Linked DNA regions of Homo sapiens. The protein of the gene in region 1 interacts with the protein of each later gene in a pairwise test. Each region holds a gene or a part of one and is shown in the gene's direction. Other genes may lie near its edges.

What was found.
Region 2: the proteins of GMCL1 (region 1) and EHHADH interact in binary tests that used the Homo sapiens proteins (3 or more experiments, as listed by UniProt).
Region 3: the proteins of GMCL1 (region 1) and MORF4L1 interact in binary tests that used the Homo sapiens proteins (3 or more experiments, as listed by UniProt).
Region 4: the proteins of GMCL1 (region 1) and HYKK interact in a two-hybrid assay, tested with the Homo sapiens proteins (2 studies listed by BioGRID).

The regions. Positions count from the first base shown.
Region 1 is NC_000002.12:69,835,582-69,840,123, forward strand, and holds part of GMCL1 (germ cell-less protein-like 1), read left to right. Parts: intron 1-1,965; coding exon 1,966-2,089; intron 2,090-3,875; coding exon 3,876-3,972; intron 3,973-4,542. UniProt on the Homo sapiens protein: Possible function in spermatogenesis. Enhances the degradation of MDM2 and increases the amount of p53 probably by modulating the nucleocytoplasmic transport.
Region 2 is NC_000003.12:185,189,503-185,192,601, reverse strand, and holds the end of EHHADH (peroxisomal bifunctional enzyme), read left to right. Parts: coding exon 1-376; 3' UTR 377-1,978; downstream 1,979-3,099. UniProt on the Homo sapiens protein: Peroxisomal trifunctional enzyme possessing 2-enoyl-CoA hydratase, 3-hydroxyacyl-CoA dehydrogenase, and delta 3, delta 2-enoyl-CoA isomerase activities. Catalyzes two of the four reactions of the long chain fatty acids peroxisomal beta-oxidation pathway.
Region 3 is NC_000015.10:78,889,875-78,894,010, forward strand, and holds part of MORF4L1 (mortality factor 4-like protein 1), read left to right. Parts: intron 1-1,114; coding exon 1,115-1,140; intron 1,141-1,609; coding exon 1,610-1,698; intron 1,699-2,337; coding exon 2,338-2,439; intron 2,440-3,664; coding exon 3,665-3,753; intron 3,754-4,136. UniProt on the Homo sapiens protein: Component of the NuA4 histone acetyltransferase (HAT) complex which is involved in transcriptional activation of select genes principally by acetylation of nucleosomal histones H4 and H2A.
Region 4 is NC_000015.10:78,534,346-78,537,766, forward strand, and holds the end of HYKK (hydroxylysine kinase), read left to right. Parts: 3' UTR 1-2,300; downstream 2,301-3,421.

The DNA.
Region 1 (4,542 bases):
TACGAAGTTGGTTATAGGTGGGGCATGCTTTGTAGAGCAGAGGTTCCCAAGCTTTCATGGATCACAGCACATTTCATATTTTAGTAATTTTCACCCCTGGTCCAAAAGAAATACCTCATAGTTAGGGCCAAACAACCTAATGATAGCAGATTGCATGGTATCTGAAAGATGTTACTGTGTTTCCTTCGAATTTAAAATACTCCACATGCCTCTCTGAGTTGGCTGTGGTGCTCTAAGTTCAGATGGTATCCTGAACTGGTGAATTTCACACACGGTTTGGGAACCATGACTTAGGGTGAATGGATTGGGAGTGAACAGGCCACAGATTCTTTAAATTTCAGAATGAGGATTGCTTTGTCTGGGCACCAGCAGCTACACTACAGCCTTAGATCTTCCATTAGCTTTGTGCTATTTCTAGAAAAACCTTGGAATCTTTTTGCCTCAGTATCTGTACTCTCCTTATCTATACTCTGTGTTCATAGAGTGGAGAAGGCACTAGTTTCCCCATTTTCTGCCCCTCTTCTTACTTCTGCCTTTGTTTCCCTGAGACCTCATCCTTCTTTTCTCCCAAGGGTTCTGATGGGCAGATAAGCTTAGCCTCCATCCTAGTCCTCCATAATGTATTTTTTGGCTGTGGCTGTCACTGTTCTTTTTCATTTGAATTTGTTTTCTAACTTTCAGATCTGTATAAATCTCTCATCAAGTGATGAGCCTACCCTCACCTTTTCCTGGTGTGGACTTATTCCTTTTTTGTACTCTTAATCTTTAATGTAATTTGGGGAGGGATGGGAAGCCAACATGTGTACATTCTGCCGTCAGGAACTGGAAACTACATTGTCTCTTGATTTCGCATCATAACGAGTGAAGTGGATACTATTAATGTCCTCTTTTTACAGCTGTGATAACTGAGCAGCTGGGACTCAAACCCAAGTCTGTTACCACTAAGACATGTGCTGTTTTTATTGTCGGCTAGGAAGAGGTGTTAAGTACACAGGTGTTAAATTCGCCAATTCAGGATGTCATCTGAAACAATTACTTCATTTTTAAAAAGAGATTGAAGGTTTTATGTGCTAGGAAAGCTTTCAGAATTGGTCAGGAATTTAAGATATTGATCAGCCTCTGCCTAAGGCCTTTTCTTAGTTACTGGATCATTTTGAGCAATGATTTTCAAACTTTATTTTTTTAGTCAAGTCTTCCTTTAAATTAAATCTGTGCAGAAATCCAGTATGTTTACAGATAGAATAGGTGATGCTGCTCTGGTTGAAGTTAGATGGGATGCTCACAGTTCACTCCTTAGCTCTCCTTGGTGGCCCCTAAGACTTCTCCTTTGAGCAGTTTTAAAAACCTTTCATCTAAAATAAATAAATAAATAATTTTAAAAAACAAATAGGAAAAGAAAAGAAAACCTTTGATCTAAGGTTGCAAACCGTTTGTCCAGTGGCTGGAAAACATTTTAAGTAGTTTAAGAATAGGTTGGTACCAAAATAAGATTAAATGTAAATTATTTTAAAATTACTTGGGTAGGTGAAATGTTTACTCTTGTTCTCCATTTCCTACTTGCAGATTATTGCGCTATTTGAGCTCCTTCATAGTGCTGGTTTCTAAATAAGGAAATAAGCAAAAAATCAACATGCTAACTTCTTAATCTATTGAATGGGTAATTAAATTAGTCCAAAATTGCTAAAACATGTGTAGTGAAAAGTCTGCCTCCCATGCTGCCCCCCTTTCTCCACTATCTCTCCCGTGCATAGAGGACCCCAGAGATAACCACTATTATTAGTTTCTTATGTACTCTTCTAGACACAAGAAAATTTGAATATATACTATCTCCCTATCCTTTTACACAATAGGTAAGTTGACTCTATTTAATAGAAATTGAATAAAAGGAGTATTTAGAAATATATGCAAAATCAGTAAAACATTCAGTTTTATATAAATATGTGACTTTTTCATTTCTTTTAACAGGAAAAAATTAAAGAGTACATCTAAATATATTTATCAAACATTATTTTTGAATGGTGAAAACAGTGACATTAAGATTTGTGCTCTAGGAGAAGAATGGAGCTTACACAAAATATATTTATGTCAAGTAAGTATTTTTTCTATTTGAGTAACAGGGTAGTCACTGAAACTCTTAAGTCATGTTCTTCCTCATTGCACTTCACAGTAATCTTTTGCATGAACACCATAGTGGTTAAATCCTCTCATTTGATCAGTCTGTAAGAAAAATGGCAAACATTGTTAGTGAAAACTAAGTTTGGTCTAGAAAGAGATTTTGATATTTCAGTATCAGACTAGCCTAATACTACGTATTTGTCATTACTTCATAAAATGCTTTTTTCGGTGCCTTCTGTTGATAAAAGGGGAAAAGTTGGGGAAAAAATATTTAACATTAAAGTTAAGATTGTAGTGTTTATTTTGCTTATGGTTATTTAAATTGGATAAACTCATCTGAAATGTTGCTTTGTAGTTCACATTGAGTGTGAATAGAAAGTTCTCTCCTGAAAAATGCAGGTAAAGACAACACCAAAAAGTATATAGACTAAGTAGATTTCTGTACTGAAAATATTACTACCTGCCACCCCACTTTAAAAATTCAGAACTTTCATAGCTGACGTGGTGTTGGGCACCTGTAATCCCAGCTACTCAGGAGGCTGAGGCAGGAGAATTGCTTGAACCTGGGAGATGGAGGTTGCAGTGAGCTGAGATCGTACCACTGCATTCCAGCCTGGGCAACAGAGCGAGACTCTGTCTCAAAAAAAAAAAAAAAAAAAAAAAAAAAATCGGAGCTTTCAAAATAGAATACAATGTTGCTCTAATGGCCCAAATATTTTATTCATTTTCTTTCATCAAATCTATAAGCTAGGTATTGTTTGAGGCACTAGAAATAAAACAACAGTTTTTATCCTTTGGAACTTACATTTTTCCTCTTTACCATTTGAGAATAATTACTGGTAAGACAGCATAGTATAAAATTTTTCAGTAAAAGTATTTGAAAATGAATTGCCTTCTCTAACATTTTAATCATGTTTTAAAATGTGTTTTTGAAACAAATTTATTTTGGCTTGAAGTATGTTGCCCAGATACTATATCAGAATATTGCTTTTAACTTCAGGGTATGATTCATGTTGTTTCTTTTTAATATCTGAAAGCAGTTTTGTGAACTTGAGGGTAAGAATACCTCTGTTAAAACTTTACCCCTCGTGGAAGATGTATTATAATTCAAGCCACATGCTAAAATATAAGCCCCCTGAGGACAGAAACAATATCGATTTTGTTTATTGCTATATTCACAGTGCCTTCTACATACTAAGTACTCAGTAACATTTTTAAATAAATTAGTTAATATTTGATCCATTTCAAAGTAATTCTAATTATGAGGAGTGCTATCTGGCAGATACCTAAAGACTTCATTCTGTACCTTTCCAAGAATTCAGGTCCATTCTGGACATTTCTCATTAAACTAAATTTTGGATTTTCCCTGGTTTCTTTGGCGATCATCCTGTTTTTGCTGACTTGGGACTGGTTTGGTCCTTTATAGCCATTCAGGTGTACAGTAAAGATTCAACAGTTTGAGTAAAAAGCTAACCAGGTTCAAATAATATACATGAATTCAATTTAGATAGTAATATAAGAATTTTAGTTTTTTGTCAAAAATAGTACTAAACCAAAAGTATATTTTGATACACCTAATAGTGTCCTTATCTTAATTTCTTTTCTCCTGTGGACATATTTGGCAGTTCTTTTTCTGTTGAAGTAATAGAATGGATGAGTTTAGTTAATGGATAGAATAGTTGCTTAGAATTAGAAATGGGCAAATAATTTGGAAGACACAGAAAGTACTTGATAATCGTTGACTTTTTTTTTTGTTTAAGTCTGGCTACTTTTCTAGTATGTTCAGTGGTTCTTGGAAAGAATCCAGCATGAATATTATTGAACTGGAGATTCCTGACCAGAACATTGATGTAGAAGGTAACTACCACAATAATTACTATTATGCAACAATCGTAAAAACATAATCTTATTCTTCTGGTAGAAGATAAATAATTCCTTCCAGCCTTGTAGTCTAGAAAACTCCTTTTATCACCTCAAGGTGATAATTTGATGTTGATTTACACCATAGTTTATCAGTTCTGTCCATCTTATCACTAATCTGTTTTGTCATTTGGGCCTTATCAGTTTGTTTACTTATCTTTGTAAATATGCCCACCTGGGATATGGAAGATGTAGGATGGAGGAAGGAAAAGTATGACCATTTTTTTTTTTAATTACATAGAAAATCTGATAAATAATACTGATTATTCCCTATGTATGAAGATGTTTTCTGGGAACAATAAATAAAAATATTGTTTTAGAGCTAAAAGAATCCTTAGTTGAGGAAGCTGAGGCTCAGAGGAGTTAAGGGACTTATTTTGGATCTCAGAGCAGTTTAGTGAGCCTGTGTCAGACTACAGCTCTCCTCATTCCCATTCCAGTGCTCTTGCTGCTCCCCTCATTGGTGGTCCACATGGAAGTACCTGGTGCGATACAAAGGCAAAGAAA
Region 2 (3,099 bases), on another chromosome or scaffold:
CCTATCACGGTATAGAAAAACCCATCACATTGAACCACGTACCATTAGCCAGGATGAGATCCTTGAACGCTGCTTATATTCACTTATCAATGAAGCATTCCGTATCTTGGGAGAAGGGATAGCTGCTAGCCCAGAGCACATTGATGTTGTCTATTTACATGGATATGGATGGCCAAGGCACAAGGGCGGGCCCATGTTCTATGCTTCCACAGTTGGGTTGCCCACAGTTCTAGAGAAATTGCAGAAATATTACAGGCAGAACCCTGATATTCCCCAACTGGAGCCAAGTGACTATCTAAAAAAACTGGCTTCTCAGGGAAACCCTCCCCTGAAAGAATGGCAAAGCTTGGCAGGCTCCCCTAGCAGTAAATTGTGATTCAGTCTTCCAGATTATGCCTCACATGCTAGCATCAGGTAATGCTGACTGAATTTCAGTGAAATTAAATCAAAAATCCAAAGTAAGATTGTTCTGAAATACAAAGCAAAATAAATAATCATTAGAATCTTCTGTGTAACGACTCTAATGGTCAAATCTTTAGGAATGTGCTTCCTATGCCTCTGAATCTGTCCTTATCAGATAAATTCAATGCATGAACTTGTGTGAATATAATACCATAATAGCTAATGAAAGAGGCTCAGGCATAAGTTGAGATTCTCAAATGCTTTTATCATTGGATAAATGTGTCATCAATTAATAAATGATAAATGCAGCTAAGTCATACATTCATTTTGACTCCTTTCAATGTCACACACATAGTATTGATCAGAAATCTTATGAATCATACATACACTCAACAAACATTAAAGTTGTAGGAAAAAGACAGTTGGAAATTGGTAAGGGAACTGAGTACTTCAAACCAGCACAGGGAACTTAGGTTAGTGTGGCAAGCCTTTCCTCTTCTGGTCTTTCCTCTTCTGTTTATGGAGAAATAATAGAAAGTAGTAAGTCGTTAACTTAGTGTAAGAAGGGTCTTAGAGAACATCTAACCTTCTAGGATTTCCCAATTCTGTGATAGAGTAATGACACCAGTTTTCCTGTCATGACAAGCCTCTGTGATGTTACATATGGAAATGGTTGAATCTTGAAAAATCTAAAATTGTTGCAAAACATATTTTGTATGATTTTGTTGTAAGAGTTCTTCTCTTTTTACTTTTTGCCTTGTGTAGTTAAAAATTAAGGGGCTGGTCAATACAAAAACTTGTACACAAATATTTATAGCAGAATTATTCATAATGGCCAAAAGCTGAATACAACCCAAATGTCTATGAACTAATGAATAGATAAACCAAATCTGGTATATCCATACAATGGACTATATTATTCAGCCATAAAAAGAAATAAAGGGCCAGGCACAGTGGCTCACACCTGTAATCCCAGCACTTTGGGAGGCTGAGGCAGGAGGATTGTTTGAGGCCAGAAATTTGAGACCAGCCTGGGCAACATAGCAAAACCCTGTCTCTACAAAAAATACTTTCCGTACATTAGTGGTTGCCTAAGGCTAGAATTGGGGGTGATGAATGGGGAGTACAGGATTCATCTAATGGGTACAGGATTTCTTTATGGTTCATGAAAATGGTCTAAACTTATTGTGGTAATGGTCACATAACAATATATTAAAAACCATTGAGTTGTATATTTTAAGTGGGTGAATTATATGGTATGTGAATTATATCTCAATAAAGTTGTTAGTAAATAAATGGGGCTGAAGATGTTATCCTTCATTGTGGTGTAAATGAACTTTCACAATATTTTCACCTGTGAACCCAAATAAAATGATTAAAGTTCTGATGGAAAAATCTTGAATGGAGTATAAGTTTTCCGTTGTTAAAAAGCAAACAAAAAACCAACAAAAAATCCAAGTGTGCCTTGAATTGTACAGAGCACAATTATTATGTTTGAAATGTGTACTACTTAATTTTATATAATTTGGTTTGTGAAATTAAAGACATCAATAAAAATGATTCCTGAAAGTAGTAATTTTGTCTCCAAAGTGACTTGCTTTCAAATCAGTGTTAAAAAAAACCCACTAACTTTTTCTTCAAACCTGGAATTAATTTTGAGTTCTTACAACTTATTTTCACCCTACAGTGGCCTCTAGATTAAGGGGGTTTTTTTTGTTTTTTTGTTTTTGTTTTTGTTTTTTTCTGACTGGAGTCTTGCTCTGTCGCCCAGGCTGGAGTGCAGTGGCGCTATCTCAGCACGCTGAAAGCTCTGCCTCCCAGGTTCACACCATTCTCCTGCCTCAGCCTCCTGAGTAGCTGGGACTACAGGTGCCCGCCACCACGCCTGCCTAATTTTTTGTATGTTTCAGTAGAGACAGGGTTTCACCATGTTAGCCAGGATGATCTCAATCTCCTGACGTCATGATCCACCTGCCTCGGCCTCCCAAAGTGCTGGGATTACAGGCGTGAGCCACCACGCTTGGCCTAGATTGAGATTTTGAAACTAGAGGGTCTATGAATAGGTTTTATGAGTCAATAACCCCTGAAATGTTATGATAAAGTTTGTGTACATGTATCTGAGTACATTTCTTGGAAAAGGTACCATATCTCACATCATATTCTAAAAAGTATCATGACCCGACCAGGCGCAGTGACTCACGCCTGTAATCCCAGCACTTTGGGAGGCCAAGGCAGGTGGATCATGAGGTCAGGAGATCGAGACCATCCTGGCTAAAACGGTGAAGCCCCACCTCTACTAAAAATACACAAAATTAGCCGGGTGTGGTAGAAGCACCTGTAGTCCCAGCTACTTAGGAGGCTGAGGCAGGAGAATCACTTGAACCTGGGAGGCAGAGGTTGCAGTGAGCCGAGATCATGCCACTGTACTCCAGCCTGGGCAACAGAGTGAGACTCTGTCTCAAAAAAAAAAAAAAAAAAAAAAAAGTATCATGACCCAGTAAAGGTTAAGGACCAATAGAAAATGGCAAGAGCAGCCTGGCAAGGTGGCTCATGCCTGTAATCCCAGCACTTTGGGAGGCCAAGGTAGGCAGATCACTTGGGGTCAGGAGTTTGAGACCAGCCTGGCCAACATGGTGAAACCCCGTCCCTACTAAAAATACAAAAATTAGCCAGGCGTGGGGCGCATGCCTGTTAGTC
Region 3 (4,136 bases), on another chromosome or scaffold:
CCATAATCATGGGCTCTATAAACTGTTTCCTTTGTGGTCTAGAAATAATAATGTAAAAAAGCAAAATTAGGCCAGGCATGGTGGCACACGCCTGTAATAGCATTTTGGAAGGCCGAGGTATGCGAATCACTTGAGGTCAGGAGTTTGAGACCAGCCTGGCCAACATGGTGAAATCCCGTCTCTTAAAATACAAAAATGAGCTGGGAGTGGTGGTGGGTGCCTATGGTCCCAGCTACTTGGAAGGCTGAGGCAGGAGAATCGCTTGAACCCGGGAGGAGGAGGTTGCAGTGAGCCGAGATCACCCAACAGACAGAGCAAGACTCCATCTCAAAATAAATAAATAAAGCAAAATTAGCAATTTACCATTTGACAGTATATAAGTGACGTGAGGTAAGTTGCTGTTAGAGATGATAATCAAGATGAGGAGACTTAAAACAAAAAAATTACACAAATCTAAAAATATTTTGGGGAACAAAAATAATTGGAAAAAAATTTTAACCTTTGACACCTTTTTTTTTTGGTGGGCCTAATAATGTAGTATATACTATAACATATATTAATATAACCCTGGAAGAACGAAGTTGTTTACTAAAGTGTTCTTGGTTTGCTTTTCTTTTTTTTTTGTCTTTGAGACAGGGTCTCTGTCACCAAGACTGGAGTGCAGTGGTGCAATCAAGGCTCACTGCAGCCTTGGCCTCCTGGGCTCAAGCAATCCTCTCACCTCAGCTTCCCAAGTAGCTGGGACTATAGGCGTTTGCCAGTATGCCCAGTTAATTTTTGTATTTTTTATAGAGAACAGGATTTGCCATGTTGCCCAGGCTGGTCTGGAATTTTGAGCTCTAGAGATCCACCCCCTCTTCACCTCCCAAAATGCTGGGATTACAGGCATGTGCCACTGCGCCTGGCTTGGTTTATTTTTTTCTATTATGTGGAGAGAGATGGGAATTTAACCAACTATCAATAAAAATCCTTGTGTCTGAGTAGGACACATATTTACCACCTGATCCTTTATCCAAGTTAGTATTTCTCTGTGAACTTAACCCTGATAAAGGGAGTTGAAACAGAGGCAGTTTTACTGGAAATAATTATTTTTCTTTTTTTTCTCTCCTTTTAGGAAAACGAAAAAGAACAAACAGAAAAGTAAGAATATTAACTTTCTTAACGTTAATTTATGTTACCTCTATGACATTGACGTTTTTATTTTGAAAGCTATGAAATTTTGGAGTAAGCTTATGTTTATTGATTATCTCAAATAGGAGTCTCACAGCAGTGTTATAAAATAGGTACATGGTGGTAGAGACCTCTTTTTGCCAAGGAGAAACTTGTGAGCATTTATTTTCATCTGCTTTAGTCTTAATGTCTCCCACTGAGAAGATAACATTTATAAATAAATGGAAGATGGTGATACTAAATGTTGTCTATACTAAATGTTCGGTAGAGCTCTTCATGAAAGTTGTATTTTTGGTAGGAATATGATTCTTTAACTTAGATTGAGGTAACAGCTGTGTAATGGAGAAATAATGAAAAGGGTTAATGTGTCAAGAGACTATTTTCCTTATAGAGTTTGTTAAATTAGCTAAATGAGACCCCTCCCCGCCAACATTTACAGCACCTGGAAATGGAGATGGTGGCAGTACCAGTGAGACCCCTCAGCCTCCTCGGAAGAAAAGGGCCCGGGTAGATCCTACTGTTGAAAATGTGAGTTTTTCTTGTGTTTATGAATAGCATGTTAGGATTTTTAGTCTCAGTTACATGACATAACCATGGGAGCTTTGATTATCTACAAGATTTGCTTACATGGTTAATACCTGAAATTAAAAATTTTCTCTTTTGGGGGTAAAGGATAAATTTCTGTATATCTTTATTTCACCTGTAGCTCCAGATTTACCTACCCAATTGATCATTTGTTGTGTAAGCTTCATGTTCACCTACAAGACTATTTCTTTGGTGTTACGTATTTATTTTTAGGAGTTAAAGATGTACCTTTAAGATGGTTGTGTTTGGAATAGTTTTGATATCCATGGTAAATAAGAAAATACTAAGTTAAAATGTATCAAGTCAGGGTGTTTCATTTCCTGAACAAGAGGAACCTTACTGAAGAATTTTTACCTTTACAAGAAAATGCACTAAATAGACTATAGTTCAGGTCAGATTCTTTTCTCCCAACAGCGAACCGCGTATGGTCGTTTTTATTAATGATTTTAAAAAATGACAGTACAGCTGTATGCTTGGCTACTTTAAGATTTATCCCTAGTGCCTCTAAAAGTCAGCTCCCCTCCATGTTTGGTATTTAGCAAGAAAGGTTAGGTTTTTAATACTCCTCCTGTTTCTGTTTAGGAGGAAACATTCATGAACAGAGTTGAAGTTAAAGTAAAGATTCCTGAAGAGCTAAAACCGTGGCTTGTTGATGACTGGGACTTAATTACCAGGCAAAAACAGGTAACTTGAAAAGCTACCCAGATTGTTAAGCTATATGATACATTCTTGCTAGCAAAAAAAGTTTTTAAAGGAAAATGTTATATTGACTTGAATTATTAAGGTATGACTGATAAAATAATATTTTAATTTAGAGGCTGAACACTTTAGAACTACTACCAGAAAGAGTAAGTTAGAAGAATAAAAGTTCACATATAAATTTTATGAGGTTATAATGATAAAGGTGGAAATAACTCATTTTTGGAGATTGCTAGGGCAGGAACTCGTTCTGAAAATTCATAAAGGTGAAGAAGCATATGTCTTACTGTCATTGCTAATGGTAGGCCATAGAAAGCACACACCACCACCTGCAAGGTATTCATGACCCTGAAAAGAACCTGAATCTTACTAAGCGCCTGGATCTATTGTTAGTTTGCAGGAAATAGGATGTTTAATGGAGTGACATGTTTGTCAATCGTTGAACTCTATAATTGAGAATTTTATAGGACAAATGAAGCTATTTGAACAAATGGCATAGGTAGGGTTAGGGATAGTTGGGGGAGATGATTAGGGACTGCTTGAGGATTATGAGACTTAAGAGACCTATCAGTCATATACAGTATGTGGATATAGTTTGAATTCTGATTTGAATCCTTTGGAGGGTTATGCAGTTACAGCTAAACTGCGAAGATTCAAGCATGGCTGTATCACTTATTATTTGTGAGTTTGGACAAGTTTCTTAGCCTTTTTGTGCTTCTGTTTTTGCATTTAATGGAATAATAGTTTGTATTTGACAATGCTGATGAGAGGACGAAAAGATAATTATTTTAATGCTTTAGACTAGATCTAGCAAATAGTATGCATAACAGTAAATGATGACTTGGTAGTACCACAAAGGCACATTCGTGTCTGTTATGTGTGTGTGACAGATTGACATTTTTAAAAGCTGTGCTGTTCTGTCTAGTAGAGTCTCATTTGGCTGTTTAAATATATAGATGCTCCATAACTTAGAATGGGGTTACATCGCAATAAACCCAGCAGAGAGTTGGAAAATTAAGTCCAAACCATTGTAAGTTGGGAACTGTCTGTAGTTTCTCAGCCACATTATCCATGTTTTAAGTGCTGAATAGTATCTTTCCTAATTTGAAATACTGTTACTGTTACCTGATCTTTGTATAAAAACTTGCCTGGTATGATTTTTCTTTAAAAAAGAGAGTGCTTATATTTAAGCATATTTTTGTCTTCATAGCTCTTTTATCTTCCTGCCAAGAAGAATGTGGATTCCATTCTTGAGGATTATGCAAATTACAAGAAATCTCGTGGAAACACAGATAATAAGTAAGAATATACATTTTTCAGATGACACTCAAAAGACATTTAAAAAAGTTTCTAAATAAGTCATCTGAAACTTGTACTGACTCCGAAACATTAATACCACCAGAAACTAGCAAAATAGAATTTCACTGCTTTGACACAGGAGTTGGCTGGCTGACTTTTTCTTAAAGGGCCAGATAGTAAATATTTTAGGTAAAATTTAAGCTATCATGTAGGTATTTGCATAACCATTTAAAATTTAACCATCTGAAAATGTAAGAATCATCTTAATTGCTTTAGTTTGTCAAACCCTGCTTTCATATGCCCTTTAAAAAAATCTCAGCTATGGTTCATTATTACTAGCTCAGCTTTTAATTCTTTAAATTGGTTGAATTATTCTCTATGTC
Region 4 (3,421 bases), on another chromosome or scaffold:
TTCACGCCATTCTCCTGCCTCAGCCTCCTGAGTAGCTGGGACTACAGGCGCCCACCACCACGCCCGGCTAATTTTTTTTGTATTTTTAGTAGAGACAGGGTTTCACCGTGTTAGCCAGAATGGTCTCGATCTCCTGACCTTGTGATCCACCCGCCTCGATCTCCCAAAGTGCTGGGATTACAGGCATGAGTCACCGTGCCCGGCCTCCTCATCCCTTCTTATCACACCTGCTATTATAGTGCCTTTCCTACAGAGAGGTCTTTAAAAATATTTGAAAATAAATGCGTGCTAGAAGAAGGGATGGAGAAGGCACACACTAAGATGCTTTAGGAGAAAGCATTGACAGCATTCTTGGAGAAAAAATTTTAACTTGTCTGAGAGGGTGGTTGAAACTGGAACTCCAGAGATAGATGCTGGAAGACCCTGGGAACTGCAAGGAAGCAAATAATGACATCCAGGCAAGGCCACTAACCCCTGAGCTACTTAAATATAATGGTTCCTTTCAGACTGATACCAGGAACCTCCTTAAGCATATAAGCATATATTTTTTAATTCTCTATAATCTGTTTCTTTTTGGATGACTATGAAGTAGATTGGGTAGACTGAAGCTCACTGTATTCTTGGCTGACGGTATCCCACTGTGTTTCCTTCACTGGTTTCTCGTCATGTCTCCTTTAGTATGATTTAGTAAATGGCTGTTTACTATTCTTATGATTTCAACTATTCATTGTCTACAGATGACTCAAGTCTAGAACCCTGGCCATTCAAATACTCAATAGTTATCTTTCTATATATATGAACAGGCATTGATCCTATCTCCATCTTTCTGTCTACCTACCTAGTCTTCCCAAACTAGATATTTCTCTAAATTGTCTTATATGGTTCATTTTTCACTTCTTTGTCCCTCAATTTCATTTCATTTCTTTTTCTTTTCTTTTCTTTTCTTTTTTTTTTTTTTTGGTGGTGGGGCGGCAGGGACAGGGTTTCACTGCAGCCTCAACCTCCTAGGCTCAGGTGATCCTCCCACCTCAGCCTCCCTAGTAGCTGGGACTTCAGGCATGTGCCACCATGTCTGGCTAATTCTTTAATTTTTTGTAGAGATTGGGGTAATACCTATCTCATAGAATTAATAGAGTTCATTGTGAAGATTTCATAAGAGAACAGTGCCAAGTGCTTAACACAGTGTGTGGCACATAGTTAGGACTCAGTAACTATTTACTCAATAAATGAACCATATTCCAGGTTACCCAAACTCAAAATATTGGAGTAATTTTTTGCTTGCCTCTCTTATATTCAGTGAGCCCTACTGGTTTTTAGAATTGTAGAATTTTAGGAATCTCTGTCTTTACTGGATTTTTTGTTTGTTTTGGGCTTTTTTGTTTGTTTGTTTGAGATAGGGTCTCACTCCGTCACCGACGCTGGAGTGCAGTGGTGTGATCACAGCTCACTGCAACCTCTACCTCCTGGGCTCAAGCAATCCTCCCACCTCAGCCTCCTGAGTAGCTGGGACTACAGGCATGTGCCACCATGCCCAACTAATTTATTTTATTTTGTAGAGATAGGGTCTCACTATGTTGCCCAGGCTGGTCTCAAACCCCTGGACTCAAGCAATCCTCCTGCCTTGGCCTCCCTAAATGCTAGGATTATAGGCGTGAGCTATCATACCCAGCCTGTGTTGTTTTTTAACAATATATAATAAAAGCCAACATTTATTCAGCACTGAAGTATTTTATACACATTAGCTCACTTAATTTTTACAACAAACCTGTGTGGGAAGTACTGTTATAATTAATCGTCATTTTCAGATAAGAAAATAGCAGCTGAAAAAGTAAAAATAATTTCCTCAAAGACAGCCAGGGCTTAAATCAGGCCTTTCTGATGTAGACCATGCTCTTCACTACCACAGAGTTCCATGCTACTTTCTCTCCCTCTCCCTCCTCTCCTGTCCCTGCTACACACACACACACACACACACACACACACACATGCACACTCACTCACACACACTAGGAGGAACAAATGAGATCATTCACATGAAAGCACTTATGTTTCTGAAATTTAAGGGACTGTGGTTTTTATCTAGGTTGACCTCTCAAGCTAAAAACTGGGAACCAGAATAATGGACTGAAACTTGGGTTTCACTTCCAGACCAGTGTTGATCCTCTGAATTGATGAAACTGTATAGATTTCCCTCTTGATTGCCCCTGCTAACATGGATTTCCTTTCACTCAATTCCTAATGCAAATATTGCTGACCACTGTTTAGATGTTTACATGCTGCATTACATTGATATTTTACTATTTGGTGTTTGTTCTAACTTGTCTCCAATCAATCAATTTCATGTGGTTTATATAAACTCTTTGGTGGCTGTGATGGTTAGTTTTAGGTGCCAACTTGCCTGGATTAAGGGATACAGAGATAGGTAGTAAAGCGTTATTCCTAAGCATGTCTGTGCGGAAGTTTCCAGAAGAGACTGGCATTTGAATCAGTAGCTGAGTAAGGAAGATCCCCCTCACCAATATGGGTGGGCACCATCCAATCTGTTGAGGGCCTGGATAGAACAAAAAGACAAAGGAAAGATGGATTCAGTCTCTCTCCTGGGACAGCCATCTTCTCTTGCCCTCAGATAGCAAAACTCCAGGTTCTTGGCCTTCAAACTCCAGGACTTAACCAGCGGCCCCTCAGGTTCTTAGGTCCTCAGCCTCAGACTGAGTTACACCATCATCTCCTCTGGTTCTCAAGCCTTTAGACTCAAACTGAAACACATAATTGGCTTCACTGGTTCTTCAGCTTACAGACAGCAATTGTGGGACTTCCTAGCCTCCATAATTTATTTCCATAATAAATCCCCTCCTGTTTATCTACCTATCCATCCTTCCATCCCATTGATTCGGTTTCTCTGGAAGACCCTAATATAATACATAAATTAAATATTTATTTTACTTTACTTTCAGGACCTAGCACCGTGCCAGGCCCCTAGAAGACCCAGTAAAGATCTGTTGAATAAACTGTAAGAATGAACACACCACTACAAGTGCCAGGTCCTGGTCCTTTCAAACAACGTGGAGAAAACCCAGTTCCAGATTTAGGAATCAATACCATATGTCTGGCAAAGACTCTTTGCTCTTGCAAGTGCCTTCTTCTGTTCAGGCTTTTAGCGCCCCTGGACTACAACAGAACTTTACTTTCTGGTATTCTTAGTCTCCCTAACCTCTGCACTTCATATTATGTAGGCAGATAAAAACTCTGGTTACATATATTGCTGTGTGATGACCAAAAAAAATTGTGGCTTAAAACTTTAATCATTTTATTAGCTCATGGTTTCTGGCAGTCATGAATTCAGGCAGGCCCTGGGACAGTTTGTCTCTGCTCCCCCCAGTGTTGGGGCCTCAGCTAGGAAGACTTTAAGGCTGGGAGAGAT